Regions from separate parts of the Homo sapiens genome. Here region 1 is linked to region 2. The links come from fine-mapping of genetic effects on gene expression. A gene starts in region 2. The other region holds a variant in brackets. All regions are shown on one strand. Distances are between the middles of the regions. Region 1 holds the start of SULT1A2 (sulfotransferase family 1A member 2). Region 2 holds the start of SGF29 (SAGA complex associated factor 29).

Region 1 (16,084 bases), 41 kb after region 2:
CTCAGCTCAAGCGATCCACCCACCTTGGCCTCCCAAAGTGCTGGGATTACAGGTGTGAGCCTCTGCACCTGGCCTCCATTGCATAATTAATAAGTGTCTTGGGAGATACTTTTGAGACTGTAACTATCCTGTTCATATCAAACACACTAGTTTTAGCATCCATTTATGATTTGTGCGTGAAACAATTGAGATTTTTTAAACTTCCCCCAGGAGATTCTGATGCCCACCAAGGTTTGAAAGCCACTTCAGTAACATGTCACAGAAGACAGTTTAGGACAGGCTGTATAAAACTGTATCCTCCACACAGGCCTGGCAACAGTGATGAGACTCTCAGAGTTCCCTTTGGCCCCGTGGCTCTTTCTCCTTCTCTGCTTTCTGGGGTCCCGGTGCTCACAGCCTGAGGTGGCACTGGCTGGGCCATCCCTGCATTGTACGCAGCAGGCAAGCTGTTCCTTGTCCCTGCGTTGGTTTGGCTGCCCTTGGCCTACCTCCATCTTCTGGCCCTGGCCTGGTGAGGTCCATGAGTCACATGCCCTGGGGCACCCCCGGACACCTCCCGAGATGCTGCATCACACCCAGTTCCTGTGCATCTCCTTCCTGCCGCACAAAGGTCTTTAGAACTCCGGGTCATTTCAGAAAGGCTTGCCAGAGGAATGGACTGGGGTTTGCCATGGTATCAGAGGAAAATAAAATGACCCAAAGTGGAGTTTGTGCTGCTGACTACTGTGGAAATACGTATTTTTTTTGAAATGGAGTTTCGCTCTGTCACCCAGGCTGGAGTGCAGTGACACAATCTCGGCTCACTGCAAGCTCTGCCCCCAAGGTTCAAGCGATTCTCTTGCCTCAGCCTCCCAAGTAGCTGGGATTATAGACGCCCGCCACCACGCCGGGCTAATTTTTGTATTTTTAGTAGAGAAGGAGTTTCTCTATGTTGGCCAGGCTGGTGTCGATCTCCTGACCTCAAGTGATCCTCCTGCCTCAGCCTCCTAAAGTGCTGAGATTACAGGCGTGAGCCACCACACCCATCCCTGCTGTGGAAATACTCTTTGGGAAGATTCCCTGAGCTTTAGGATGAAGGAGCCTCACTCCAGCCAAGTTCTGTGTTTGCTTCTGCTGGGTTCTTTGGGTTCCTGCCACCCTGGAATCCCCATAAACTAACTTCACAGAGGCTTCCTGGGGCTTCAAGGCCATGCAGGGGTCTGTCTTTGGGTTCAGCCTTTCAGAAAGGATGAGGTCCTTCCACCCAGTTCTGCTCTGGGCCAGCACCTCTCCCCAGAGTCTCCCCTCCTTTTGTGTGACCCTCGGGCAGACCTGAGGCCCCCTCTCCTCATTTCAGGAGGTTCCTGCAGCCTTTCTGCAGGGTTTGCCGAAGGCAGTTTGCCTGTGTCCTTTCCTCTCTGGGATCCTGTGTTCTCTTAGTTTTTGGCATGCTGCTTTCTACCACCTTGTTTTTTATGTTCTTAAGACTAAAAGACACATACTGAAGATTTCCAGTTTTCTTTTTTTTTTTGAAATGGAGTTTCGTTCTTTTTGCCCAGGTTGGAGTGCAATGACGCGATCTCGGTTCACTGCAACCTCTGCCTCCCAGGTTCAAGCGATTCTCTTGCCTCAGCCTCCCAAGTAGGTGGGATTACAGTTAAAGACGCTCGCCACCACACCTGGCTAAGTTTTGTATTTTTAATACAGACGGGGTTTCACCATATTGGTCAGGCTGGTCTTGAACTCCTGACCTCAGGTGATCCACACTCCTCGGCCTCCCAAAGTGCTGGGATTACAGGCGTGAACCACCACACCCGGGCAGATTTCTAGTTTCACCATGAGGTTGGTCTGAATAACCCAGCCCACCTTGACCAGAACAGGAACCTGCACACACCTGTCATTCCACCTGCGCAGGAGGCTACTGTGAGAACCTCTGGAGTCCGGGACCAGCCTGGGCAATGTAGCTTGACCCAAAACAGAAAAAATGGAAGAGAAGTCTATGCTATGTACGTTAACCAAACCCTCTTTCTCCCTTCTCCCCGCCCTCAGCATCCTTCGGAAAGCTCTGGACAAGATCGCGGAAATCAAGTCTCTGTTGGAAGAGAGGCGGATTGGTGAGTGGGAGAGAACATGCTGGGAGGTCCTTTGCTAGGACAAGAGGAGAGGCCCTGCGGGCAGCAGTCACCCTCCTGTGGGGGCCTGTGGCCACCACCTGCTGGCATCCTCCCATGGAGGCTCTGGCAGACTGGCTCTACCACTGAGAAGGGACAGGAGGTCATTCCCAGTGCCCAGAGGCAGGGGTTTCCCAGTTCTCCCTCAGCAGCCAGAGATCATCCCGCCCTGGCCCCTCATCTCCTGCCCCTTCTGGGGCCTGGGCCAGTCGCCCCCTCCTCTGCCATGGCCCATGCCCATCTGTTGCCCTGGCTGGTTTCTGCAGAGCCACACGCTGTGTGTCGTAAAGCCAGCCTTCCAGACCCCCTCAGCCTGCATTAGGCTCTCCTACCTGTCTGCCCTCCCAACAATCCCATGGTGGGCAGAATCTTGGCATGTCAGTGTCCCCACACAGCCATGCTGGTTCTGTGTGAAGTCAAGTGGGGTGTCCAGCTGTGCCTGAGGAGGTTGAAGGTGCACATTTAATTTTTTTTTTGGTTTTTTTAACTTTCTGTTGAATTACAATGTATATTAATAGAAGAAAAGTACACATAAGTGCAGAGTTCAATGAAATAGTCACTAACTGAACACACTTCTGTAACCAGCATTCAGATCAGCAAACACAGCCTGAACAGCACCTTGGAACCCGCTTTCTTTCTTCTGGTTCCTCCCCCTGGATCCCCGCTGTGCTGCCATCTCACCCAACTGTAGTTAAACCCAGCAGCCCCTATAGGTGCTGACACATGGCCGATGGGGTCACAGTCCTGCTGGGCCCTCGGGCTCACTCGGGAACTGGGGGCTCCCAGGTGCTCCTTCAACAGCTCAGTGCAGCATGCTCGGGGGTCAAGGCCGGCACCTATCCCTGGGGCCTCAGGCCTCCCTTCCTTCCCACAGCGGCCAAGATTGCCGGTCTCTACAATGACTCGGAGCCACCCCGGAAGACCATGCGCAGAGGGGTGCTGATGACCCTGCTGCAGCAGTCGGCCATGACCCTGCCCCTGTGGATCGGGAAGCCTGGTGACAAGTGAGGGCAGCAGCTGCGAGGGAGGGGCTGGTGCCCAGGGGCTGGGACTGACCCTTTGTTCCACTCACAGGCCCCCACCCCTCTGTGGGGCCATCCCTGCCTCAGGAGACTACGTGGCCAGACCTGGAGACAAGGTGGCTGCCCGGGTGAAGGCCGTGGATGGGGACGAGCAGTGGATCCTGGCCGAGGTGGTCAGTTACAGCCATGCCACCAACAAGTGAGTGACACCAACCCTGGGGCTGCTCTCTGGTCACCGAACTTGCCTGGGCTACGGGAGAAAAGCTCTGCAGAGGGTGCTCCCCAGAGGCTGGTTGTGCAGGGAGCACCAGGTCCTCCCCCATCCTCACTCCCCAACAGGTACTGCGCCCCTGGCTGCATCCAGCCTTTTCCTCCTTTTGTCTGCAGGTATGAGGTAGATGACATCGATGAAGAAGGCAAAGAGTGAGTGTCCAGGCCAGGGCAGGGCATGGAGCCTGGGGGCAGCCTAACAGCTGAGAAGGAGCATCCCCACCCGGCCACAGGTTGATATAAGCCCCTCTTCCCCCAGGAGACACACCCTGAGCCGGCGCCGTGTCATCCCGCTGCCCCAGTGGAAGGCCAACCCGGAGACGGACCCTGAGGCCTTGTTCCAGAAGGAGCAGCTCGTGCTGGCCCTGTATCCCCAGACTACCTGCTTCTACCGCGCCCTGATCCATGCGCCCCCACAGCGGGTAAAGCAGCCTCCAGGGGAGAGGCCATGGGTGATGTCAGGAACAGGCTGATCAGACAGACGAGGGGTCCTCTCCCCACTCCTTCCCTTTGTCCTCATCTCACAGGCTCCAAGCTGACAGGACCCACCAGCTGCCCTCCCTCTTCCACTCCAGCCCCAAAGGCCACCATCCCTTTGCCAGCCCTGGCAGCCTTGGCAAGCCCCGAGTCAGTGGCTTCCAGCCCCAGGAGAACCAGCTCCGAGATGGGAAGCTCCTGCCCTGAGCCCTGGGCTCCTACCGCCTTGTGCTCTTGGTGACATGGGACACAAGCCACCTGAGGCCAGGATCCCTGCCTGCCACCCTCTGGGTTGCCCTCAGTCCTCTCAACAAAGAGTCCTTGAAAGGCAGCAGACCCTCCAGCTATGACCCCACTAGGAAGGGAGTCAGCACCCCTACTCCTCCCTGCCTATTCCCTGCCTTGGGTCTCCAGCCACTGAGAAAAGAGCTCTGTAGCAGCAGGGACTGGGCCAAGACTTCTTGACCCCAGAGTGAAGGATGTTAGGAGTGGCTGAGAGTCCACGGCCCAGAGCCTCCTGTGGTCTAGGCTGGGGGAAGGGGGTGCCTGTCCTGGCCTGGGGGTCTCTGAGCAGCCCCTCCTGTCTGCCTGCCCCACAGCCCCAGGATGACTACTCGGTCCTGTTTGAAGACACCTCCTATGCAGATGGCTATTCCCCTCCCCTCAATGTGGCTCAGAGATACGTGGTGGCTTGTAAGGAACCCAAGAAAAAGTGATGCCGCCTGGCAGACTCGCCATCCCCCAACGACACAGGGCAGGACAGCAGAGGACGTGCTGGGATTAAACACATTCCCCCTCTACTCGTCTCCTGGGTTTTACTTCTCCAGACCCTCTCCCCTCTCCAAACAGGGCAAGTTGAGGAGCTGGAGCGGGGAGGTGGCCGTATTTGGCCCCAGTGGGCGATCACTCTTTCAGCTCAGGGTTTCTCTTGGCTTGGAATAGAGACTCTGCATTGAACACAAATCATACTTTATTCTGGAGCCTCTTGGTCAGGCTTGATTCGCACACTCCCTCTGCAGTGACTCCAGGAACCCCTCTCACAGCTCAGAGCGGAAGCTGAGGCTGCAGCCTGCCATCTTCTTCGCATAGTCCGCATCGAAGCGCTCATTCTGCGCCACGGTGAAGGTGGTCTTCCAGTCCCCAGCCATGCCTGGGGGAGGAAGGCAGGGAGCAAAGCTGGAGTCTCATCCCAGGGGAGGCCCCGAGTGCCTATGGGGAGGCTCCAGCTGCTGCTCCCACCTGCTCCAAACCCCCGTGCTGGCCGGCACCTACCTTTCCTCATGAAGGGGGAGATGCTGTGGTCCATGAACTCCCGGCGGACGGTGGTGTAGTTGGTCATAGGGTTCTTCTTCATCTCCTTGAACGACGTGTGCTCAACCATGAGGTCCACAGTCTCCTCTGGCAGGGAGCGCCCCACAAACTCCAGGATCTTTTGAATCTCCCTTTTGGGGTTCTGAGCAGCAGAGGGCTCCTCAGTGGAGGCTTGGATTGCTGATTCAGGAAAATAAAAGGGGTCCACTTCTCTAACCTCAGAGGGGAACTGGCCACTTCCACTTCAAAACCCATAGAGCCAGCTCCTCGACCCCTGGGACCCCAGTCCCTGGGGCAAAATGAATTGCTGTCTGCCCTGTGATCCCATCATGAGCTGGGCTTGGCTCCTATGGGTAAGGACTGGGATGGTCTTCTTCCGTGCCTGTGGCCCTGGGTGGCATAACCATTGGCAGGGAGAAGCAATTGGAATAGATAGCTGATCTGTGGCAAGGGGCCGTGGTTCAGGCGTGTAATTCCCAAGACTTTGGGAGGCTGAGGCAGGCGGATCACCTGAGCTCAGGAGATGGAGACCAACCTGGCCAACATGGCACAACACAAAAATTAGCCAGGCATGGTAGTGTGCATCTGTAATCTCAGCTACTCAGGAGGCTGAGGCAGGAGAATCACTTGAACCTGGGAGGGGGGGTTACACTGAGCTGAGATCACACCACTGCATGCCATCCTGGACAACAGAGCAAGACTTTGTCTCAAAAAAAAAAGTAGCTGATCCATGGCCACCCGTGCAGCTGACTCAGGCACAGGAGATGAGAGCTGTGCCCAGCCTGCTGCCACATGGGGCTGCAGTGGGGCCTGGGCCAGGGAGTCAAGATGGGGAATCCGGGCCTGCTGGAGGGGCCGCCCAGGGAGGGTGGCTGGGTGGCCTTGGCAGGTCCCTGTGAAGTGCCTGCCCCCAGGTGTCACGTGGAGGGAAGCATCAAAGGCGGTCTCACCTCCTTCATGTCTTCATAGAAGAGGTAGAGAACAGGGTGGGTGCGGCTCAGCTCCCACCACTCTTGCACGTGCTGGTACCAGGACCCATAGGACACTGGAGAAGCGGGCAGGGAGTGCCGACACAGGGTTGCTGTGCGTTGTAGCCACCACCCCTTAGCTCCACACCTTCCTTCCTCCCATCAAGCCCACCTTCTCCAGCCATGAACTTCTCCAGGAAGCTTTCCCAGGTCCCAGGGTGAGGGTACACTTTGGCCATGTGGTAGAAGTGGTAGTAGGAAACCGCCACATCCTTTGCGTTGCGGGCAACATAGACCACCTGCAGGGGCAGAAGACTCAACCCCAGCACCATCACCACACAGCCTGCCCCAGGCCAGCTCATCTCTTGGTTTGGCAAAGGAGGAAGCTGAGGCTTAGAGGCTGACTTGTTTGAGATCTCACGGCACAGGTAGGGCCAAGTCAGGATCTGAACCCTGCTCAAAAGCCAAAGTCCTGCCTGGTCCCTGAGACCATCATATTCTATAGTAATATAATCTGCATCAATGCGTCACACCCCGATCTGGAGCAAGGCATGCTCCACCAGGCATGTTCCCACCACCACCAAATTTTGTGGGCCTGTGAGGACCCACCCTCTACCTTTCTTAGGTCTACCCGGAAGAGTCTCATGTTTTTGGTCATCAGAGCAAAAGGCAGACAGTCCCCCCCGTGGAAGATGAGACAAGTCTGGAGGAAGTGAGGCGACTCTCCCAGAAGAACAGGACCAAAGCTGGGCTGAGCCGGGGCCTCCTTCCCTGGATTCACATGCCCCACACCTGGACCTTTGCTTTTTTCTTTTTGTTGTGGTTTTTTTTTTTTTTTGGGGGGGGGGACTCTAGGTCTCAAAAAAAAGAGAAAAGAGAAAAAAGACCTTGGGCTTTCTTTTTTCCTGTTGCCCAGGTTGGAGTGCACTGGAGTGAGAATAGCTCACTGCAACGTTGACCTCCCAGGCTCAAGCAATCCTCCAACCTTAGACTTTTGAGTAGCTGGGACTATAGCGCTATGCCACCATGCCCTGCTGATTATTTGCATCTTTTATAGAGATGGAGTCTCCCCATGTTTCCTGGGCTGGTCTGGAACTCCTGAGCTCAAGCGGTCCACCCATCTTGGCCTCCCAAAATGCTGGCATTACAGCGGTGAGCCACCCAGGTGGCAAACCTTTTAAAATATTTATTTGTTTTGTTTGAAACAATGTCTCGTTGTGTCTCCCAGGCTGGAGTGCAGTGGCACAATCTCGGCTCACTGCAACCACCGCCTCCCAGGTGCAAGCTATTCTCCTGCCTCAGCCTCCCGAGTAGCTGGGATTACTGGCGCCTGCCCCAACGCCTGGCTAATTTTTGTATTTTTAGTAGAGACGGGGTTTCTCCATGTTGGCCAGGCTGATCTCAAACTCCTAACCTTGGGTGATCTGCCCACCTCGACCTCCGAAAGTGCTGGTATTACAGGCGTGAGCCACAACAGGCCCAGCCCCCTGCCACCTGCCGCTTTTTTTTTTTTTTTTTTTTTTTTTTTGAGACAGAGTTTTGCTCTTGTTTCCCAGGCTGCAGTGCAATGGTGAGGTCTCGGCTGACTACAACCTCTGCCTCCCAGCTTCAAGCAATTCTCCTGCTTCAGCCTCCCAAGTAGCTGGGATTACAGATGCCTGCCACCATGCCCGGCTAATTTTTTTGTATTTTTAGTAGAGATGGGGTTTTGCCATGTTGGCCAGGCTGATCTCAAACTCCTAGTCTCAGGTGATCCACCTGCCTCAGCCTCTTCAAGTGCTGGAATTACAGGTGTGAGCCACCGCACTGGTGGGACACTCTTTCTATTCATCGTTTTTTGAGACAGTGTTTCTCTGTCACCCAGCCTGGAGTGCACTGGTGTGATCATAGCTCACTGTAGCCTTAAACTCCTAGGCTCAGATGATCCTCCCACCTCAGCCTCCTGAGTAGCTGGTATTACAGGCACACACCACTATGCACAGCTAAGTTTTTTTTTTGGAAGAGACTTATCTGGAACTTCTGGCTTCAAGGGATCTTCCCACCTCAGCCTCCCAAAGTACTGAGATTGCGGGTGTGAACCACTGTGCCCAGTCTCACCTTGACCTTCTGATCCAACAGAGTCTGGGGGAGCAGAGCCAGGGGCAGGTGTGTCTTCAGGAGTCGTGGGGCTGGTGTGTTTTTCAGAGTCTCCATCCCTGAGCAGTGGGTCAGGGAAGGTCTGGTGAGCTGAAGCCCCAGCCCTGTCTTCCTCCACTCCCCTTGCACCCAGGACACACACACCTGAGGGAATCCCTGGGACTTTGAACTCAAGGAAGGGCACCCGCATGAAGATGGGAGCTCGGTGACACTTTTCCAGGTCACCGCCCTGGTAGATCATGTCCAGAATCTGGCTCACCCAGGTGGTGCCTGGAGAGGGAGGGAGATGGGAGGTGAGCAGGCTGAGGTGAGCATGACCTCGCTGGCCAAGGTGGGGACTGCCACCTGGGAGAGGGTGGGTGGCCCTCCTCACCTACCGGACTTGGGGTAGGTGCTGATGAGCAGGTCATCAGGCCGGGCCTGGAAGCTCTGCAGGGGCCCCAGTGCCTCTGCAAAGTACTTGATGAGC[G/A]GGACCCCCTTCACGTACTCCAGTGGCGGGCGAGAGATGTCCTGGATCAGCTCCATGTTCCTGCGTCAGGGGCCAGAGCCAGGCCCGTTCCCTTACCACCATCACAACAGCAAGAAAGTGGAATTCTTGCTTTCAGGGAAGTCACTGAGGCCTAGGGAGGCTGAGTGACTTGCCCGCACTCACAAGGCCAGTCAGTGGCGGGGCTGGGGCTGAAAACCAGGTCGGGCTCTAATGTGGTGGTTCCCCAGCCTGGCCTCACCTTTCATTCACCTGCGGAGCTGTTCAAAATCCCAGGGCCTGGGCCATGGTGCAGACCAGTGAAAGCACCCTCGTGGCGCGGGGCCCAGATGTCAGGGTGTGTGAAGGTCTCCAGGAGAGTCCAGCTGCACTGAGGAACCTCTAGGACCTTCCTGTGCTGTCTTCCTGCCAGCCAGCGCCCTTTGTCTCACCATTTCCTGCTGGGACCCCCAGCCTCCACCCAGTAGGCTCCTCTCCCCGATGTTCCCCTCCTTGAGCCCCTCGGCCCCTCACATGTGGCAACTCCTAGGCTGGCCAGGCCTGTGATCCACTTGCCCGGCCACAGTCCATCTGGGCTCCAGGACAAACAGCCCATTGAGCAACTGAGCTGGTATTGGGGGCCAGAGCCTGATGTGGGAATGAGCAAAACTGTGATGACTCAGCAAAAGGAGGATCCTGGGCAGGGTGGCTCCCACCTGTAATCCCAGACCCTAGGGAGGCTGAGGCCAGAATTTGGAGACCAATCTGGGCAGCATTGGAAGACCCCATCTCTAAAAATCTTTTAAAAATATTTTTTAAAACTATCCAGGCAGGATGGTGAGGGTCTGTAGTCCTAGCTACTGAGGCAGGAGAATCACTTGAGCCCAGGAATTCAAGGCTGCAGTGGCCAGGATCCCACAGCACTCCAGCCTCGGTGACAGCAAGACCTGGCCTCCCCGGAAAAAAAAAAAAGGAAGGGAGGGGGATTCAGGCCGGCCGGGGTTGTCTGAAATGGGATATCCATGGGGAGAGGGCAGGGATAGCAGAGGCCTCGGCTTCTGGAATGTTGGAGCCACAAGCTGAGCAGGGTGAGGGCGTCCTGGGCCATTCCGGTGTGTCACTCACCTGAGCTCTTGGGAACCTGGCCTTGTGCCCTCCTCGCCCGCAGTGGCTGAGTGTGGGTGTTGTGTGGGGAATGCAGGGGTGTTGTCTGTGCTGAGGGTTTCTTAGGTCAGTGTGGGAGGGATCTGGAGCCGGGGCTGGACTTAGATTTGCTTCCGGAAGGAAGGGGTAGGGTTGGGGGTGGGGGAGCTTCTCTATTACCCTCCTTAGTTTGCCAGCTGGAGACAAGCTTAAAGTGATCTCCAAAGCCACGACTGGGTTTGGTGTGTAGAAAACAGAAGAATGAAAGGGGAAAGGGCCCAATGGTGGGTTTGTTTTTGTGGGTTTTTTTTTTTGAGCTGTCACTGGGCTCCTGACCTGCCCCTGAACTCCAAAAGACAAGCTTTCTCTAATTGACCCAGGCAAGAGAGGGGAGGGATTGGAGGAGAAAGATGGGATAGGCAGGCCCTGGAAAGGTCACCTACCTGCTGGCTCCAGGCCAGTCTTGAAGGTGCCAGGGGTCCTGGCCCAGTGCAACCCACAGGCCTCCAGCAGCCCATGCACTCCAGGCTCTGACCACAAGGCCAGTCTGGAGTGATGCGTGTGGGCAGAGTGAAGGGGCAGGGGTGGAGCAGAGCATGGATCCATAGAACAAGAAAGAACAAGGACACTGCAGTCCCATTGCCCTGGGAGCCAGCCCCAGCTTCATGGCTCCCTGGGGACCTCACAGAACATCGATAGAAGATCCTAGAAGAACCACAGCCCCTGGCAGGTACTTTTCTTTCCATGGGTTTGAAGGAGGCTCCACAGACAGAGGCCAGAGGAGGTTGAGGCTTGGAAGCCACAGGGCCCCGTGGAAGGAGTGCATCCCCCCACCCTCCTCGTTCTTTGTCCTCACTATTTAAAGTCCAGGGTCAAGCTGGGCACGAGACAGGTAAACAACCATCTGAGTAAAGGTGAGTCTCCCAAGCCTTCCCAGGGTTGCGTGAGCTCAGAGGCAAGCGGGGAAAACTGAGGCATGGGATTTCCAGGCAGAGGAGAGGCTGCTCCCCTGCTAGGGCCACAGGCCCCTCCTCCCTCCTCTGTGCCCCTGAGGAATCCCCATGACTGGCAGGTCCTCCGGCTACTAGCTCCACCCCTGCCCTCAGCAACCTTCAGGAGGCCCTCTTGACTGAGACTTTGTATTGCACTCTAGTGAAAACCAGCCGGACCAGCAGGGGGTGGCACAGAAAAGAGGCGAGAATGTGAGATTAATAGAGTGCTAGCAAGACAACAGAAAATCCCAGGCAGCAGTTTCACATGACCAGAAGAAGGAAACTTGAAATAGCTGCATGTGCCAAGGGCCAATAAGTCCCTGAAAAATAGGATGAGGACCAAGCTGGCTGCGACCAACCAGAAGCAACATGGCGCTGTATTTGATGTAGGTTTCACCTAGGATCTCACTGTACAATCAGTAACATATGAAACCGTACACCCACCAGTGCCAAGACGGCTCCAGGAACACCTGTATTTGGGTGTAAATTGTGGCACCACGGTCTTGAGAAATCTTTACCTTTTCCTGGAATCTTCATGAATATACCCCTCTTTAGTTGAAGAAGCCCATAAAGGTCAGCCCCACACCTTGTAGGGCATGAGACACTCTCTTGAGGACCCCCACGTTCCTCTTCTTCAGTGAGTCCCTTTACTCTGCAGGAAATCTGCCTACGTTCATGACTTTTGCACTTGTCCTTAAATTGTTTCTGGCTAAGGTGCCAAGAGCCTGGAGAAGGCCTGGCACGGTGGCTCACTCCTGTAATCCCAGCACTTTGGGAGGCCGAGGCAGGCAGACCACCTGAAGTCGGGAGTTTGAGACCAGCCTGACCAACATGGAGAAACCTTGTCTCTACTAAAAATAGAAAATTAGTCAAGCCTGGTGGCACACGCCTGTAATCCCAGCTACTTGGGAGGCTGAGGCAGGAGAATCGCTTGAACCCGGGAGGCGGAGGTTGCGGTGAGCCAAGATCACGCCATTGCACTCCAGCCTGGGCAACAAGAGTGAAACTCGGTCTCAAAAAAACAAAACAAAACAAAAAAAAGCGTGGAAACGGGCTGAGGTCGATGTCCCACCGGTCTTTGATGACCTCCCCTAGGCCACCAGTATCTGGAGGGGATTAGGGACACTGAGCTCCAGCAGGGCTATCCAGTGTGCCTGCAGAAACAAGGTTGGTCACAGGCAGCCCAGGACAGGGAGTGGGGTAGGGAGGCTGGGGCCAAAGCCCACTCACGTCTTCTAATTCCGAGTCTTCCACTATTTCCCCCGTGCTCATCCATCACAGCCAGATCAGGTCACCCAAAGCAGTGACGCCTCACAGCTACCAAGGCATGGGGCCAGAGAGAGAGACAGAGTCAGGCATCACAAGCCCCCTCCAGGCTCAGCCCTGAATACCAAGATCAGGACACGGCTGCCCCGGCCTGGATTGCACAACTGGGCACCCTCTTCCCAAAGCTGGACCAGGCTGGGGCCGGGGGACTGCACTCAGCTAGGGCATTGGCCCTCTAGGGGCAGAAGCTGCCCTGGTTCTTCCGGAAGGAACTCCTCTCACAGGCAGATCACGTGGGCTCTTAGCCAACAGCCAGGGTTGGGGCAACACAAGGGCCCCGCTTCATCCTGTCCCAGGCAGCAGGCAGGTAAGAGACAAGGAGGGAGAGGCAGCTGGCAGCAACCCCTCTATGCAGCAGGCACTGTTCCGGGCATTACACAGCTCCATCCCGTGAGGCAGAGGTGACTGTTATTTGCATCTTACAGATGAGGAAATGGAGGTGGGGGTTTAAAATCCTTGCCCCTGGGACTAAGCTGGTGCAGGTCCTGGGAGCATCAGCAGTGATTGATTGAGTCACAGCCTCACCACTGCAGCCAGACCTGAACTTCCTCACAGCTCAGCAACACCCAGCAGGTCACTGAATGTCCCCAGGGCAAGTCCTCTACTCACTCACTATTAGCGGGTGCTCAGTAGAAGGCACCCGTTTTCCATTATTTTATTAACTATTTCTTGGCTATCGTCTCTGTGCAGGACTTTGTTCTACAGCAGTGACAAGAGCTGCCCTCGGGCAATGTAGTGCAAAGGTTGGGGTGGGAGAGACTAACGAGAGTCATAAAGCACCTAGCCGGTGAGATAGTAAGTATTCAGGTAAAGAAGCAGACGGGGAAGTACACAAGAGGTGCAATTTTATTTTATATTTTTAGAGACAGTTTCTTGCTCTTTTGCCCAGGCTATAGTGCAGTGGAGCGATCAGAGCTCACTGCAGCCTCCAACTCCTGGGACCAAGCGATCCTCCCACCTCAGCCTCCCCCCGTAGCTGGGACTACAGGCATATGCCACCATGCCCGGCTTCTCAGAGCTGCAATTTTAAATCGGGAGATAGAGAAGACCTCCCTGTGGAGGTGGCAGGTTATCAAGATAGGTGTAGAGAAGAACCTTCCAGTCAAAGGGAAAAGGCAGGTCCTGCTGTGCTCAGGAATGGCCAGAAATACTATCATCCCCATCTTAGAGACGGGGACAGGGCCGCAAAAGTGTCAGGGCGTTTCCTGGCTCCTCAACAAACAGCTGGATCCGAAGTGGTCTGGGGGATGAGCCGCCCTGCCTGGGGCGGACCTCCCCTGGAGCTCAAGGGCTCGCAGGGCGCACAGGCCTCTTGGGCCCCGGGTCCGGCTCAGGCTCGGGCTTGGTGCCAGCAAAGGGACCTGCGCGGTGCCCTGGGGCCGGGGAGGCCCGAAGGCCATCGCCCGTGCGGCGCGGCGCATAGAGGTCCCGGCGGAGGTCGGGGTGCAGCGGGAGTAGGAGGCGCGCCTATGGAGGGGGTTCCAGGCCCACTCCAACAGCGGCAGGATACGGAGGAGTTAGGGCGGCTCCAGGCAGGGGGGCGGACCCCAAGCCCTTGCCCGCCTGCCGCCGCCTGGTCTCCTTCCTTACCCGAAGGGTTGCCACGGCGGGCGGGAAGCCGTGCACGACGAGCACTTTCTCCCTGGGGAGGAGAACGGGGGTGTCCCTGTGAGCCCTGCCGCGCCCAACCGCGGGTCCCCTCCAATTCCACCCGAGAGCGGGGTCCTCACTGCCGGCTTCAGCCTAGCCCCAGGCCCTGCCCCTAAATGAAGTCACGCCCCCTGAACCTGCCCACCTCAGGCCGCGCCTCCAGCCCAGGTACCCACCTGTCCCCCCTCCTCTCCCTCCTGCGCTCCATCCGACCCCAGCATGCCCACCAAGACCCCTACGCTGGCCCGCATCCTGGATCATCACCTCCGCCCCAGCCAGCTCCTCCCCGGAGTTCCACCGCCAAGATTCCCAGGGCACTGTCTCCCCGTCATGCTCCTCCTCTGTGACAGTCCCGTCCCCACCCTGGACTCCCCACCCATGTCACAGGCATGCCCCTCCCTCTCATCAGGCTTGTGCCCAGCGGGGTCCGCCTCCTCCAGGAAGCCTTCCTCCTGGCACAGAGACCCTTCCGGTCTCACCAGGAGTGCAATGGCCCGATTTGGCTCACTGCAACCTCTGCCGCTGCCCCCTGCCCCATCTTTCAAGCAATTCTCCCGCCTCAGCCTTTCGAGTAGCTGTAATTACAGGCACGTGCCACCATGCCCGACTAATTTTTGTATTTCTATTACAGACGGGGTTTCACCATGTTGGTCAGGCTGGTCTCGAACTCCTGACCTCAAGTGATCCAACCGCTTTGGCCTCCCAATGTGTTGGGTTTACAGGCTTGAGCCACCGCGCCAGGCCTGGGCCCTGCCTTTTGTGTGGTCCCCATTGTGCTGCTGGACCTGACAAGCAGGGCTGACAGTGAACCCCATATAAACGTGGCCCTGATGACGGGGGTTCAGGCCTTAGAGCAGGTAGATGCTGAAGAAGCGCCCCGGCCTAGCCGCGACTCCCGTGGAACTCTTTGAATTTTAGGAAATTCTCCTTAAACACACTTCTGGTTCAGCACCGACATCAAGAAGAGAGCCTCTCCAGCACCTGCAAACTCACTTTGTCCCTCCCTGGTTCTTCCCGCTGGGCGCCCACTATGCTGCGGTCTCGCCCATCTGTAGCTGAGCCCAGCAGCCCCTGTAGGACACCTGGCCGAACGGGTCACAGTCCTGCTGGGCTCACTCGGGAGATGGAGGCTCCCAGGGGCTCCTCCAACAGCCCCAGGGCTGCTCTCTGGTCACTGCACCTGCCTGGGCTGCCACTCTGCTTCTCATCTGCACAGCAGGAGAAAAACTCCACAGAGCGTGCTGTGGGCGGGGCCGGCTGTGCAGGGAGCACCGGGTCCTCGCCCTGCCCCTGTCCTCCACACTCCCCTACAGGGACTGTGCCCCTGGCTGCATCCTGCATTTTCCTCCTTTTGTCCACAGGTATGAGGTAGATGACATTGATGAAGAAGGCAAAGCGTGAGTGTCCAGGCCAGGGCAGGGCATGGAGCCTGGGGGCAGCCTACCAGCTGGGAAGGAGCATCCCCACCCGGCCACAGGTTGACACAAGCCCCTCTACCACCAGGAGACACACCGTGAGCTTGCGCCGGATCATCCCGCTGACCCGGTGGAAGGCCAACCCCGAGACAGACCCCGAGGCCTTGTTAGTCAAGGAGAAAACCATGTTCTCAGGATGCTGTGACCTTGGTGACAGCACGGCCAACACAGGAAGCCTCGGCATTCACCTGGTCACTGAGCTCATTCAAGCAAAGCGATCTCCAGTAGGGACTTTCCCTTTTGAGAACATGTGCAAAGGGTCAGCAAACTGACACTTTGCTCATTTTAATAGTAAAAACCATACCCCTGGGTGGAGATTTAAGATGCTAATGAGACATGAGTCCTAGGAGCAAGCATGTATAGCAAATGCGCATGTGCACCCAGAGGACCACCCAGAACATGCTTACTAGTGATGCCTCTTCCCACCCATTATGAAGAGTTGTGTGAGACTCCCATAAAGGGAGTTTTTCCTGCAGTAATCAACACCGTCCCAACCTGACAAGCAGTCCCTTCTGAACTCGCTCAAGGTGTATTGTCTATTCTGCAATTAACTTTCAATATACTGTTTTCTTTTGCAATAAGTTATTCTATGCTCCACTTCTTTTGCTGTGTGTCTCTTGTTTAAATCATTTTATTTATTATTATTATTATTATTATTATTATTATTATTATTATTATTATTATCTTAGATGGAGTCT
Region 2 (16,084 bases):
AAAAAAAAAAAGTAAACTTGGGCCAGGCGCAGTGGCTCTTGCCTGTGATCCCAGCAAGATAAGTATGTGATCACATACATTGGCAAGTATGGGATGATTCAGTACATATATCAATACTCTTGCATAGAAAAAAAGGAAATGGCTGGACCTGGTGCTGTAATCCCAGCACTTTGGGAGGCCAAGGCAGGCGGATGGCTTGACCCCAGGAGTTTGAGACCAGCCTGAGCAACATGGCGAAATTCCCATCTCTACAGAAAATACAAAAGTTAGCCAGGTGTGGTGGCTCGTGCCTGTGGTCCCAGCTACTCAGGTGGCTGACGCCAGAGGATCACCTGAGCCTGGGGAGGTCATGGCTGCAGTGAGCGGTGATTGCGCCCCTGCACTCCAGCCTGAGCAACAGAGTGAGACCCTGGCTCAAAACAAATTTTTTTTACAAAAACAAAGAAAGAAAGAAAGAAAGAAAAACGGAATATACATGGCTTGTGCTTACCAGGTGTAGACATAAAGATTTTTCCAAACCCTCTTGCTTAAAATGTATCTTTAAAGAAACGATTACTTTATAGTATAGATTTTCCTTCAAGTTAAAATTTTTATAGCAATTGGGTCATGCCATAAAGCTCTTAAATATCTGGAAATAATTTTAAGGGAGCATTTTGGGACAGGGCAGTGGGAGCAGTCCCCTACCCTGATCCAGGCTGTCTATAAAGAACTTAATAATTAAACTGATCCAAATCATTCTGCCTTTTATTATCACTATCAATTCTCAACAATGTCAGTAATAAAATATGCCTCCCTGCCACTGCGAACTGCTCCTAGGGAGTCCTCCTTACCTCTTAGCACTGTTAAAAAAAAACGAGGCCAGGCGTGGTGGCTCACGCTGTAATCCCAGCAATTTGGGAGGCTGAGGAGGGCACATTGGTTGAGCCCAGGAGTTTGAGACCAGCCTGGGCCACATGGCGAGACCTCGTCTATACAAAAAAATACAAAAATTAAGACCGGGAGCGGTGGCTCATGCCTGTAATCCCCACACTTTGGGAGGCTTAGGCAGGCAGATCACTTGAGGTCAGGAGTTCCAGACCAGCCTGGGCAACATGGTGAAACCCCTGTCTCTACTAAAAATACAAAAACTAGCCCAGCATGGTGGCACCTGTAATCCCAGCTACTCAAGAGGCTGAGGAAGGAGAATCACTTGAACCCCAGGAGGTGGAGGTTGCAGTGAGCCGAGATCGTGCCATTGCACTGCAGCCTGGGCGACAGAGCAAGGAGCTGTCTGAAAAAAAAAAAAAGAAGAAAAAAAAAACCCACCACACACAAAAAGCAAAAATTAGCTGTGTGTGGTGGTGTGTACCCATAGTCCCAGTTACTTGGGAGGCTGAGGAGGGAGGATCGCTTGAGCCGGGGAGGCAGAGGTTGCAGCGAGCCAAGATTGTGCTACTGCACTCCAGCCTGGGTGACAAAGCAAGACCCTGTCAAAACAAAACAAAACAAAACAAAAAAACCACACAAAAACCCCTGAGGTATCCATATTAGCCATTGATTCAGCCCATTCAATTTCTTTTATAGACAGTTTGATTAGTCAAGATCATACTTACAAAAAAACCCATAAAAATGTCTACCGTCCTAAACTTATCATATTTAAGCTCCAGTGAAAATTCTCAAATATCAAATCTGTTTCCAGCTGGGGTCACTGATATCTGATGTCCAATGCCGTCACTTCTGGGTTTTCACGTTCACCAGGGCTGGTCCTGGTCGTCTCCTCCACTGGGCTGTCTGGCCCATGCCCCACGGGGTCAACATGGAGGGGTCTTTAACACCCAGGTGTATGTCAAAAAAACAAGGGAGGGCAACATCGTGCTGTAATTTTTGGTTGGGATAACAATTCAGGTTTCATCTGCTCTGGCTGACTTTCTGCCTGAGCGCCCCTGCATGGAGGCACGCTCATCCAGCCGCCTGGTGGGTACCGGACTTCAAAGGTGGAGTTCTGCTGAAGGTCAAGAGGATCCCAGGGCTCAGTCAGGGGGACCTTGGAGCTCAGCTTGGCGGTTTGTCCAGCCTGCAGCATCAGTCCATCCTCTTAGGGAAGATGTATTCAAACAGTCTCTTGCAGGTCAAGTGCGTCTTCCTGGTGTCCTGATGGGTGGGGTGGTGGGTGGAGACCTGGGACGGCTTTGCTGCGGAGTGTAACGGGTGTAGACGGAGTGCCCTGAAAACAATGCGTTGTCCCACCCCACCCACCCCTGGGCCACAGACACCGTCCCCTACCCTCCCACCTCGGGCCAAGGGGCCGTGCCCCCCTACCCCATGCCCCAACCCATGTAGAATGAAGCGAGCCCAGACATCATTGTCGCCCTCCGCAACGGTGCATCTGTGCTCCCATTTTTGCAAGAAAAATTATTTTCTTTTTCTTTTTCTTTTTTTTTTGAGACGGAGTCTCACTCTGTCCCCCAGGCTGGAGTGCAGCGGCATGATCTTGGCTCACCGCCTCCACCTCCTGGGTTCAAGCGATTCTCCTGCCTCAGCCTCCCAAGTACTGAGCAGCTGAGATTACAGGTGCGGGCCACCACGCCTGGCTATTTTTTTTTGTATTTTTAGTAGAGACGAGTTTCACTATGTTGGCCAGGCTGGTCTCAAACTCCCGACCTCAGGTGATCCCCCCACCTCGGCCTCCCAAAGTGCTGGGATTACAGGCGTGAGCCACCGCACCTGGCCAGAAAAATTATTTTCATTATTGAAAATAAAAGTAGGGGGGGCAATGAGATGTAAACCAAACTCTCCAAAGTGGTTATATCCTAGACTGGGGTTCTGGATAATTTTTACTTTCTCCTTTATGGACTCCAGATCTCTGTAGTGTTGGACTTTTGCACAATGTATATCAGAAAAAAAGGCAACATTTAAGAGTTAATGTATTTCATCTTTTTCCTTTTGGATTGCAGGCACACTATGCCACCTTCTGGTCATGATATGGCTACGTGTGCCTGCAGCGGGGACAAAAACCATTAAATTGTGAATAGTTACAATTTCCTCTTTGCCATGGGAGGTCAGATCCTGAGAGAGCTGTGTGTGTGCGCGCGTGTGTGTGTGTGTTCTGAGAAATGGTCTCACTCTGTTGTCCAGGTTGGAGCGCAGTGCAGCGGCGTATTCACAGCTCACTGCAGCCTCAACCTCCTGGGCTCAAGTGATCCTCATGCCCCACCTCCCTGTCCCCCACCATACCCGGCTGATTTTTTTTTTCTTTGAGACAGAGTCTTGCTCTGTCACCCAGGCTGGAGTGCAGTGGCACAATCTCAGCTCACTGCAACCTCTGCCTCTCGGGTTCAAGCGATGCTCCTGCCTCAGCCTCCCTAGTAGCTGGGACTACTCGGCTAATTTTTTTTATTTTTATTTTTTATGAGGCTGGAGTGCAGTGGCACCATCTCAGCTCACTGCAACCTCCGCCTCTTGGATTCAAGCGATTCTCCTGCCTCAGCCTCACCAAGTAGCTGGGATTACAGGCATGCGCCACCACGCCCAGCTAATTTTTGTATTTTTAGTAGAGACAGGGTTTCACCATGTTGGCCAGGCTGATCTCAAACTCCTGACCTCAGGGGATCCACCCGCCTTGGCCTCCCGAAGTGTTGGGATTACAGGTGTGAGCCACTCCGCCTGGCCTGATTTTTACTTTTTTTTGAGACAGAGTCTCACTCTGTCACCCAGGCTGGAGTGCAGTGGCACGATCTCGGCTCACTGCAAGCTCCACCTCCCGGGTTCATGCCATTCTCCTGTCTCAGCCTCCCGAGTAGCTGGGACTACAGGCACCTGCCACCACGCCTAGCTAATTTTTTGTATTTTTAGTAGAGACGGGGTTTCACCGTGTTAGCCAGGATGGTCTCGATCTCCTGACCTCGTGATCCGCCCGCCTTGGCCTCCCAAAGTGCTGGGATTACAGGTGTGAGCCACCCCGCCTGGACTGATTTTTAAATTTTTTTTTTTTTTTTTGAGACAGAGTCTCGCTCTGTCACCCAGGCTGGAGTGCAGTGGCACGATCTCGGCTCACTGCAAGCTCCACCTCCTGGGTTCATGCCATTCTCCTGTCTCAGCCTCCCAAGTAGCTGGGACTACAGGCGCCCGCCACCACGCCTGGCTAACTTTTTGTATTTTTAGTACAGACAGGGTTTCACCGTGTTAGCCAGGATGGTCTTGATCTCCTGACCTTGTGATCCACCCACCTCGGCCTCCCAAAGTGCTGGGATTACAGGTGTGAGCCACCGCGCCCGGCTAATTTTTAAATTTTTTGTAGAGATGAGATCTCACTCTGTTACCCAGGCTGGTCTTGAATTCCTGGGCTCAAGCGGTCCTCCTGCCTCAATTTCAGTAGTAGCTGGGACTACAGGTGCATGCCACCACGCCTGGCTAATTAAAAAGATTTTTTTTGTAGAGACAGGATCTTGCTATGTTTTCCAGGCTAGAGTGCAGTGGCACAATCATAGCTCACTGTTGCCTTGAACTCTTGGCCTCAAGTGATCCTCTAGCCTCAGCCTCCCAAAGCAGTGGGATTGTAGGCATGTGCCACTCTGGCCCGAATAGATGAGGGGAGATCATTTAAGATGGCATTGCTCAGTCTCACTAGTGGGCATACATCTCAGAGAAATCTTCATATAGACCGCAGGGGAATAAGCATGAGGTTGTTCACTGTGGCATTGTTTGTGGTAGCCAGTAGTAGTTGGAGGCAACTTACAGGTCCATCATAACTGAAATGTTGCTGCCCACTTCGAAATATTGCATGGTTGCTGTAAGTCATAGGTAAAGTGTGCCCACAATGACAGGTGTTGAAAGCAGAGGGCTGAGGCCTGGCGCGCTGGCTCACGCCTGTAATCCCAGGAAATTTGGGAGGCTGAGGTTAGTGGATCACCTGAGGTCAGGAGTTTGAGACCAGCCTGGCCAACATGGTGAAACCCCATCTCTACTAAAAATATAAAAAATTAGCTGGGCGTCGTGGCGCGCGTCTGCACTCCAGCCTGAGTGACAGAGTGAGACTCTGTCTCAAAAAAATTTTTAAAATAACAAATAAATAGAGAGGCCGTGCAGAGCCCAATGACGAAGTGTGTCATTAAGTAGAAATAAGTAACTCAACCTTAGCACCAGCGATTAAAAAACAGAGAACCTTTGCAGTTGTTTAGGGAAGATGTCCCTACTTTGGCCTAGGGTGGATGTGGTGGAGGTGAAAAGTAGGTGGATTGTGTTATATGAATGAATATGTGTAAAGGATTTTGAACAGTGCCCGGTGCATAGCAAGTGCCTAACAAATGTGTTTTTATATTGCAGACACGTGGTGGATTGAATGAGGGAGGGGAGGGAAAGGGTGATGTCAGGGATAACCCCCAGGTGCTGGCTCAGGACATTGTACTAAGTAGGAGGTGGGACATGAAAACTGAGTATAGATGATTCTTTTGAGAAATGTGGATGTGGAGAAGACAGAGCAATTCCTTACATGTGGACAACACTCTAAAACACTTTTTAAAAAGTTAATAAATACATGTTTATTGTAGAAAAATCAGAAATTAACGATAAAATTTTAAAACAGGGCAGAGACCAAAATAATTTAAAAAACAACTGTAAGCTCTACATCTCTCCTGATCAGTGACTAGGGTTGATTTTTTAAATTTATTTTATTTATTTATTTTTTGAGACAGAGTCTTGCTCTGTTGCCCAGACTGGAGTGCAGTGGCGCAATCTTGGCTCACTGCAACCTCCGCCTCCTGGGTTCAAGTGGTTCTTTCCTGCTTCAGCCTCCAGAGTAGCTGGGACTACAGGTGCGTGCCACCATGCCCAGCTAATTTTTGTATTTTTAGTAGAGACATGGTTTCATCATATTGGCTAGGCTGGTCTCAAACTCCTGACCTCGTGATCTGCCCACCTCGGCCTCCCAAAGTGCTGGGATTACAGGCGTGAGTCACCACGCCTGGCCTAGCTAGGGCTGATATTTAACAATCAGGAAAAAGAGCCCCTGAGACCTTTACAAATGCAAAATTTGCAAAATCCCTCAAAGCATAACCTTCATAAAAGGCAGTAAGTAGAACTGCAGCTGGGTGGATGGGCATGTCATTCACTGACCTGACGCCCACAGAAAGAACTGCAAGTGTGATGGAAGAAAATGATGCATTAATTTTGGGGTTAACATAGTTTCAGTGCTAACGCCTGAGATTCTCTAATAAACAGAAAAATACTGACGGGGCTGAGGTTGGTGGCTCATGCCTGTAATCCCAGCACTTTGGGAGGCTGAGGCAGGAGGATCGCTTGAGCCCAGGAACTCAAGACCAGCCTATGCAACATAGCAAGACCCCCATCTCTACCAAAAAAAATTTAAAAATCAGCAGAATGTGCTGGTGTGTGCTTGTAGTCCTAGCTACTCAGGAGCCCTGATGGCACCACTGCACTCCAACCTGGACAACAGAGCGAGACCCTGTCTCAAAGAGAAAAAAAAAGAAACATGTGATGGCCAGGCACTGTGCTAGGTACTAGGAATACACAGGTGAACACAAGATGATCCCAATCTCATAGGACTTGCAAGTTTATCAAATAATCAACAAATAATTACAGACATTTGTAGGTTATGTAAGAAACTTTAAGATACCAGGATGGCTTTCGATAAAATACCATTGAGGCTACATGTCCATTGCACGTCCATATCCTTAGTACTTTCCTGAGAAGATTCCCTAGAAGTGCGATTTCTGGGTCTAAAGATCTGCTTGTTTTTTGTTTGTTTGTTTTTTTGAGATGGAGTTTCCCTCTTGTCACCCAGGCTGGAGTGCAATGGTACAATCTCCAGTCACTACAACCTCCGCCTCCTGAATTCAAGCGATTCTCCAGCCTCAGCCTCCCCAGTACCTGGGATTACAGGCACCCGCCACCACGCCCGGCTGATTTTTGTATTTTTTAGTAGAGACGGGGTTTCACCATGTTGGCCGGGTTGGTTTCAAACTCCTGAACTCAGGTGATCCGCCCGCCTTAGCGTCCCAGTGTTGGGATTACAGGCGTGAGCCACCGCGCCCGGCCTGTTTTTAATTAATTTTTTAACAACAGACTTTTATTTTTTAGGGCATTTTTAGGTTCACAACAAAATTGAGCAGAAAGTACAGTTTTCATATTACCCCTGCGCCCACCCACCTCCAGCAAGCAGCAATCTGTTCGCTTTCAAGTTTTATTTATTTATTTATTTATTGCATTTTGTTTTAAATAGAGTCTGGGGAAATGGGAGAAAACGCTGAAAACGCACAAGCACTTTGGTTGGTTAAATTAGGGTTCCGCCAAGAGCCGGAGCGGTGTGCCAAGTGAAAACTACATTTCCCACGGGGCAGCGGGTCACGTCACAGAGGAACGACTACGCATGCGTGCAAGGTCCTCCGCGCGCGACTACGCTCATAAAAGGAAAAAAAAGCGTGTGCGGTTCTCGACGTGCCGCCAATCTTCGAACGCAGGTCTGTGATCATCCGCAGACTCCGAAAAAGGGTTCGAGGAACGCGCCTGCTCCCCTCGTCGCAGTTTCCAGCCCGACGAGCTTGTTTTGTCCCGGACTCGGTAGGTGGCGACGGGCCGTGGCCTGAGACCTCCGGCGAAACGCGGGAGCGAAGGGCTGAGTCCTCCCTCCGCGCCGCGGCTCCCGACCTCCCTGAGGCGGCGCTCTAGGGGCGGTGCGCACGCGCTCTGGGCGGGAGGGGGGCGGGGCTCGTGGGGGTGGGGGCGGGAGAGGAGGGCGGGGCCGGGGCTCGGGGAGGGCGGGCCCTGCGCCCGGCCGCTCGAGGTCTGCGCTTGCGTGCTTCCATCCCCGGCGAGGGTGGGAAACAGCGACACGCTGGGCTCGGCACGGACGCAGCTTCCAGGTGGGGTACTCGGACCCGGGTCACGAAGATGCGGACAGAGGATGGGCCCCGAACTCCAGCACTTATTTTATGATTTGCACAAAAATTTTGTATATATATATAGTTCTTAACAAGATACACTAACAGCTCGTCGTTTGCCCAGGAGGCTCAACCTCCCGCCTCGGCCTCCCAAAGTGTGGGGAGTATAGGCGTGAGCCCCCGCGCCCGGCCAAAAAATGCCCGTCTTAAGAACAACAAAACAGCCTCCTTCACCCTCGCTATCCTCCAGTTACCTCCTCCTCGGCTCCGGTTTGCAGCCAAAGGCCTTAGTCTACCCTCACTAATGCCTTTTCTCCTCCAAGTCTTGAACCCTTGAGCCTCTAGTCAGGCTTTGGTCTCCACCACTCCACTAAAAAGGCTTCTTGTCAAAGCCACCAGTGATCTCTAGGTGGCCAAATGCATTGTTAAGTTAGGTCTCAGTCCTGTTCAGCATTTGATGCTGTGGATCACTGCCCCTCCTTGAAACACTGTTTTCATTTGGCTTGCTGAACGTTCTCTTCCTTTGCCTCTGCTCTCTCTGGCTTCTCCTCTGCTGATTCTAACCTAGGCATCATCTCACATTTTTGTTTTTATTAGAGACACGTTCTCTGTTGCTCAGACTGGAGAACAGTGGTGTTATTACAGCTCACTGCAGCCTCAAACTCTTGGGCTTAAGCAGTCCTCCTAACCAAAGCCTCCCCAAATGCTGGAATTACAGGCATGAGCCACCGCAATCCCAGTTTCACATTTTAAATGTAAATACTGGCCAGGCGCGGTGGCTCATGCGTGTAATCCTAGCACTTTGGGAGGCCGAGGTGGGCAGACTGCCTGAGCTCAGGGGTTTGAGACCAGCCCGAGCAACGTGGTGAAATCCAGTCTCTTCTAAAAAAAAAAAAAAAAATTAAAAAATTAGCCGGGCGTGGTGGTGCACGCCTGTAATCCCAGCTACTTGGGAGGCTGAGGCACAATAATCACTTAAACCCAGGAGGTGGATGCTGCAGTGAGCCAAGATCGTGCCACTGCACTCTAGCCTGGGTGACAGAGCAAGACCCTGTCTCAAAAAAGAGTTCTAGAGGTGGAAGAAAATCCACATATAAGTGGACCTGCACAATTAAAACCTGCATTGTTTGAGGGTCAACTGTATAGCTATTTTAAAAGAGATTTATTGTGATGGATTGGGTGACACTATTATAGAGGCTGAGAAGTCCCGAGATTTGCCATCTGCAAGCTGGAAGCCCAGGAAAGCAAACCCTCAGGAAACTCACAGACACACTCTAAAGTGTTTCACCAGCTATCTGGGAATCCCCTAGCCCAATCAGTTTGACACATAAAGTTAACCATCACATTTCCCTAGCTTTGTTTTTCAGTTGCCTCAATCATCATTTTACTGGTGATACTTTGAGTGTTGTCATAATAGCCTAATGGTGGGTTGGCAGCTTCCACTTTTGTGATCTCTTTTACTATTGAATATGCTGAAGTCGTGACACAACTTGGAATTCAGAGGAAGAGCATAGGTTTTAGAACTTGCAGCCTTGCAGCCCCAGCTCAACTACCTATTTTTCCTGAGTTACCTAGCATAACCTATCTGAATTTCAGTTTCTTCACTATACTTACTATTCTGTTATCTATTTTATAGGATTGCTGTAAGGTTTAAATGAGAAACACTGGCATAAGTTGCAATACAGAGGCATGAAGGAAAAAAATTGTCTTCTTAATGTCTCTTTAACCAATTGATGAATATAGATTCTATTTATTTATTTATTTATTTTTGAGATGGAGTCTCGCTCTGTCACCCAGGCCGGAGTATAGTGGTGCAATGTCAACTCACTGCAACCTCTGCCTCCCGGGTTCAAGTGATTCTCCTGCCTCAGCCTCCTGAGTAGCTGGGATTACAAGCATGCACCACCATGCCTGGCTAATTTTTTGTTTGTTTGTTTGTTTGTTTTGAGACGGAGTTTCACTCTTTGTTGCCCAGGCTGGATTGCAATGGCGCAATCATGGCTCACTGCAACCTCCGCCTTCCGGTTTCAAGCGATTCTCCTGCCTCAGCCTTCCAAGTAGCTGTGATTACAGGCATGTGCCACCACACCCGATTAATTTTGTATTTTTAGTAGAGACAGGGTTTCACCATGTTGGCCAGGCTGGTCTTGAACTCCTGATCTTAGTTGATCTGCCGGCCTTGGCCTCCCAAAGTGCTGGGATTACAGGTGTGAGCCATTGCGCCCAACCTACTTATGTTTTTTTTAGAAACAAGGTCTTACTCTGTCACCCAGGCTGGAGCCTAGTGGTGCCATTATAGCTCATTATTCCCAAATTCCTGGGCTCAAGTGATCCTCCTGCCATAGCCTCCTGAGTAGCTAGGACTACACATGTGCACCACCCTGCCCAGCTAATTATTTTATTTTGTTTTTGTAGAGACAGGGCCTCCGTGTGTTGCCCAGGATGGTCCTGAACTCCTGACTTCAAGTGATCCTCCCATTTCGGCCTCCCAAAATGCTGGGATTACGGTCATGAGCCACTGCACCCAGTTTGCAGATTCTCATTGCTAGTGACTGGGTTGAGAGTGTGGGATGTGAGTGTGGGGTATTAGGTTCCTCTTTCCCTTTGACCCAGAACAAAGCTCTTACTGTTTTAAGCCCTGTGGGATTAATCTTAGAGTGGCTTAAGTGTAGGATATTTGGATTTGTTTATTTGAGGCCTTTTATGCTATTATAGTAAAAGGGCCAGCAATTTTAGGCTGGGTATTAGTGGTTAACATATGCTTCTACCCTGCAGCCTTTGTCCCTCAGAATTGGCTATCTCTTCAGACCGTGCTTAATGAAAGTTCTTATTAGTCAAGCTACTCAGTTGCAGATAACAAAAAGCTACTCTGACTAGCCTAAGCTGAAAGGGGTGTTTGTTGACTCTGTGATATTGTAAAATATATATCTGGTTTGTATCCCAGTTTGGAGCTTCCTGGAGGGTGGCGTGCCCAGGGTGGGTATGGAAGCTCTTCGCTCCTTCCCACATGCTTTGCCCTGTGCACCTCTTCCTTCATCTGTATCCATTGTGACATCCTTTATAATAAGCCAGTAAACCTAAGTGTTTCCCTGAGTGCTGAGAGCTGCTCCTGCAAATTAATGGAACCCAAGGAGGGAGTCATGGAAACCCTGATTTATAGTCAGTTGGTCAGAAGCACAAATAAAGCAACTGGGGGCTTGTGACTGGCATTGAGAATTGGGGGGACATGCTCGTGGGACTGAGCCCTCAACCTGTGGGGTTTGACACTCTGTCTGGGTGGATAGTGTTGGAAATAAACTGAATTAGAGGACATCCAGCGTGTATCCACTGCAGACTCAATGGATTGATTGGTGTTGGGGAGAAATCTCCACACATTTGGCCACGGAAATCTTATGTGTTGATTATCCTATATTGTGACAGCAGAGGAGAAAGTTTTGTTTTTTCCTCACAGACTGTAGCTGAAGAGTCCTGGAGTAAATCAGTTTCAGATGGGACTCTATCCAGAAGCCTAAATTATGTCACCAGTATTTTCTGTTTTTCTTTCTCTGTTTTTTTTTTTTTTTTTTTTTTTTTTCAGAGACGGGGTCTTGCTGTGTTTCCCAGGCTGGTCTTGAACTCCAGGCCTCAAGAGATCCTCCTGCCTCAGCCTCCTGAAAGCTGGGACTACAGGAGTCCACCACCACACCTGGGTACTTTTTTTTTTTTTTGAAACGGAGTCTCGCTGTGTCGCCAGGCTGGAGTGCAGTGGTGCAGTCTCGACTCACTGCGACCTCCACCTCCCGGGTTCAAGTGATTCTCCTGCCTCAGCCTCCCAAGTAGCTGGGACTACAGGCATGCACCACCATGCCCAGCTAATTTTTTTTTTTTTTTGTATTTTTAGTAGAGATGGGGTTTCACCATGTTGGCCAGGCTGGTCTTGACCTCTTGACCTCATGATCCACCCGCCTTGGCCTTCCAAAGTGCTGGGATTACAGGTGTGAGCCACCACGCCTGGCTGCACACCTGGGTACTTTTTATTTTTGGTAGAGATAGAGCCTCGCTATGTTGACAAGTCTGGTCTCAAACTCCTGGGCTCAAGCAATCCTCTGTACTTGGCCTCCCAAGGTGTTGGGATTACAGGCATGAGCCACTGCGACCCGCCTGTTTATTGGTTTTGTTAAATGCCTTGTCATGAGGCATTAAAAAGCCCATGATGGAAAGAAGATAGCCCCAGAGAAGGGATTCCAAATTCTTCACAAATTCTTCAACAGATGAGTGGATTAAAAACGACATCTATCCATAGAATGGAATGTTATTTAACCATAAAAAGGAATGAAGTTACTGATACATGCTGTGACATTGATGACCTTTGGAAACATGCTAAGTGAAAGAAGCAAGTCACATAAGGTCACAGTACAATTCTATTTATATGAAATGTCTAGAATAGGCAAATCTACAAATATGAATTAGAATAATGGCTGCCAGTGACTGAGAGGAGAAGGGGGTGGGGAATGACTGCTAATGAGTATAAGGTTTTAAGGAGAGTTGGTGAAAATGTTCTAAAATTAGATAGTGGTGATATTTGCACAACCTTGTGACTAACATAACACTGAATTGCACACTTTAAAAAAGTGAATTGGGGTGGGTGCGGTGGCTCACATTTTTAATCCCAGCACATTTTGGGAGGCTGAAGCAGGAAGATTGCTTGAGCCCAGTAGTTTGAGACCAGCCTGAGCAATATGATGAGACCTCATCTCAACAGAAAATTATAAAATTAGCTGGGCGTGGTGGTGCACACCTGTAGTCCCAGCCACTTGGGAGGCTGGGGCAGGAGGATTGACTGAGCCAAAGAAGTCAAGGCTGCAGTGAGCTGTAATTACACCACTTCACTCCAGCCTGGGCAATGAGAGTGAGACCCTGTCTCAAATAAGTAGATAGAGAGATAGAGAATTGTATGGCATGCGAATTATCTTCATTAAGCTGTTTTTGTTGTTGTTGTTGTTTTGAGACGGAATCTCACTCTGTCACCCAGACTGGAGTGCAGTGGTGCGATTTTGGCTCACTTTAACCTCCGCCTCCCGGATTCAAGCGATTCTTGTGCCTCAGCTTCTCAAGTAGCTGGGATTACAGGTGTGTGCCACCACACCCAGCTAATCTTTGTACTTTTTTAGTAGAGACAGTGTTGGCCAGGCTGGTCTCGAATTCCTGGCCTCAAGTGATCTGCCCACCTTGGCCTCCAAAAGTGCTGGGATTACAGGTGTGAGCCACCGCACCCGGCCCATTAAGCTGTTATTTTAAAAAGTCTGCCTAAACCTCTGAACTAGACAAACATGGGGCATATTCCAAGCAACTTAGCCAAGTTTAAAAGATCAGTACAGATTTCAGCTGATGCTTGCCTCAGGGAAGCTAGATTTGGAGTTTGAGTTCAGCTGTGATTAACTGCATGTTAACAGAAACAAAACACCAAACTCTCAAGAACATAACAGAATCCAGAGTCTACAACACATCATCTACAATGTCCAGGATATAATCCAAAATTCTTAGACACAAGAAATGGCCTGGGCATGGTGTCTTATGCCTGTAAACCCAGCACAGCACTTTGGGAGGCTGAGGCAGGCAGATCACTTGAGGACAGGAGTTTGAGACCAGCCTGGCCAACATAGCAGAACCCCTTCTCTACTAAAAGTACAAAAAAATTAGCTAGGCGTGGTGGTACACAGGAGGCTCAGGAGGCTAAGGCACAAGAATTGTTTGAACCCAGGAAGTGGAGGTTGAGCTGAGATCGTGCCACCACTCCAGCCTGGGCAACAGAGCAAGACTCTGACTCAAAAAAAAAAACCACGAAAATTTTAAAATATATTTTTACAAAACAGGAAAATATGATCTGTGTTCACAAAAAAAGGCAATGAATGGGCCCGGCACAGTGGCTCACGCCTGTAATCCCAGCACTTTGGGAGGCTGAGGTGGGTGGATCACGAGGTCAGGAGTTCGAGACCAGCCTGACCAACATGGTGAAACCCCATCTCTACTAAAAATACTAAAATTAGCTGGACGTGGTGGCGCACACCTGTAATCCCAGCTACTCAGGAAGCTGAGGCAGGAGAATTGCTTCAACCTGGGAGGAAGAGGTTGCAGTGAGCCGAGGTTACACCATTGCACTCCAGCCTGGGCAACAGAGCGAGACTCTGTCTCAAGAAAAAAAAAAAAAAGAACGAAAATTTTAAAATATATTTTTACAAAACAGGAAAATATGATCTGTGTTTACAAAAAAAGGCAATGAACGGGCCCGGCGCAGTGGCTCACGCCGGTAATCCCAGCACTTTGGGAGGCCAAGGCAGGCGGATCACGAGGTCAGCAGATCGAGACCATCCTGGCTAACATGGTGAAACCCCGTCTCTGCTAAAAATACAAAAAATTAGCTGGGCGTGGTGGCGGGTGCCTGTAGTCCCAGCTACTTGGGAGGCTGAGGCAGGAGAATGGCGTGAACCTGGGAGGCGGAGCTTGCAGTGAGCTGAGATCGCACCACTGCACTCCAGCCTGGGTGACAGAGCAAGACTCTGTCTCAAAAAAAAAAAAAAAAGGCAATCAACGAAGATCAACCCCAAGAGGACCCAGATGTTGGTATCAACTGACAAGAATTCTAAAAGAGAATCAAAATAATTAGTTAAAATAAATTTTTTTAAAAATTTAAAGCAGTTATTAAAACTTCGTCAGGCCAGGTGTGGTGGCTCACACCTATAATCCCAACAATTTGGGAGGCTGAGTCGGGAGGATCGCCTGAGCCCAGGAGTTAAAGACCAGCCTGGGCAACATAGTGAGACCCCATCTCTACAAAAAGTTTAAAAATTAGCTGGACAGGCACAGTGGCTCACGCCTGTAATCCCAGTACTTTTTGGGAGGCTGAGGCAGGCAGATCACCTGAGGTCAAGAGTTGGAGACCAGCCTGGCCAACATGGTTAAACCCTGTCTCTACTAAAAATACAAAAATTAGCTGGGTGCGGTAGCTGGCACCTGCAATCCCAGCTACCTGGGAGGCTGATGCAGGAGAATTGCTTGAAACTTGGAGGTGGAGATTGCAGTGAGCCAAGATCGCACCACTGCACTCCAGCCTGGGCAACAGAGCAAGACTCCGTCTCTAAAAACAAAAAACAAAAAAACACAAAAGGTGCAGGGGAAAGAAAGAAAGAAAAGATGTGGCCTTCTAAGTCAGTGGGAACACGAGCATGCTAGGAGTCAAAAAGTTTAGGGTACTGGGCGTTACCTCAGCATTCCTAAGAATGCTTGAAACCTTGCTGGAATTGCTGAGCCTCTCAGGGTTTGGGACAGTTTTGTTTACATGATAGAATTGTGATAAGATTAGCTGGCACCCTCGGACTCTGATAAAACCAGCCACTTGGCCTGGAAGTGCAGTGTCCCCTCATCTGGCCTTCCAATTCATTATGGTTCCAACCCCAGGGCCTCATTCCCACTTGCTTTGCACCAGCAGGCTTGGCATTTGTTCTCAGAAGGTCACAGAAACCTTTGCTTCTACTTAGAACATGTTTCCTGGGGAAGTTTAGACTTATGACTGACCAGATCCAGAGATAGCAGCACTTTGATGTAAAATCATAGGAAGAGCTTGTTCTCTCAGACAAGCCACTACCCAGTAGGCAAAGCTCAAACGAGAGCCCTTAAATGGTGTGGTCTTTGGCCAGGCCATCATCGTGGGGTTATTCCTAGGTTTGGCAAGCGTCAGCATTTCTTTTGCTTGTGCGATTGGCTCTTTTGCTCAGTGTAACAGCAGACCCCTGGCCTCCAGATGAGAAGGGCCACTAGCGTTCACTAAGTGCATGCTCTGGGCCGGCCACTGCCTAGGACCTTTCTTAGATAGTTGATCATCAAGTAGGTGCTCTTGTTTTAATTTTATTGAGACCCAGAAAGGTTAAATAATTCATCCAGGGTGAGTGTGAGGCTTTATGAGAACTTTACAGTTGTTCTCTCCCTTCCCCCTCCTTGGACTATTCCTGGAACATGAAGGTCCAGTTCCTTTCCCTGATGGCTGTATGGCAGGTGGCGTACTTCATTTCTTTGTGGGAAATTATACTTGTATTGATGCTGGGCATGCTGCTCGCCTCTTCAGTGTTTTCCCAAGTAAGGTCTGACAAATGGGGATCCAAGCCCTCCTGTATTTCAGGCTTTATTTTGGGTACCAAGATGCAAAGACAATCCATTAAGACAGTTCTTGGCCGCTC

The links. PIP is the estimated chance that this variant, and not a neighbour inherited with it, causes the effect.
Region 1: its variant is fine-mapped to the expression of SGF29 in whole blood (INTERVAL, PIP 0.97).

Annotation. Positions count from the first base shown.
Region 1 is chr16:28,587,072-28,603,155 of GRCh38, forward strand. SGF29 (SAGA complex associated factor 29) reads left to right here. Exons shown (of 10, transcript NM_138414.3): 5 at 2,029-2,093; 6 at 3,025-3,154; 7 at 3,225-3,371; 8 at 3,560-3,595; 9 at 3,702-3,864; 10 at 4,519-4,719. The coding sequence ends at 4,635. SULT1A2 (sulfotransferase family 1A member 2) reads right to left here and starts at 9,979. Exons shown (of 8, transcript NM_001054.4): 1 at 9,926-9,979; 2 at 8,712-8,863; 3 at 8,479-8,604; 4 at 8,296-8,393; 5 at 6,371-6,497; 6 at 6,181-6,275; 7 at 5,192-5,372; 8 at 4,872-5,069. The coding sequence starts at 8,859. The coding sequence ends at 4,957. RefSeq lists enhancers at 9,917-10,211, 11,845-12,379, 12,380-12,913, 13,747-14,261. The variant G/A (reference allele first, on the strand shown) is at 8,804.
Region 2 is chr16:28,546,544-28,562,627 of GRCh38, forward strand. SGF29 (SAGA complex associated factor 29) reads left to right here and starts at 7,377. Exons shown (of 10, transcript NM_138414.3): 1 at 7,377-7,554. RefSeq lists an enhancer at 7,346-7,665 and a silencer at 7,686-7,805.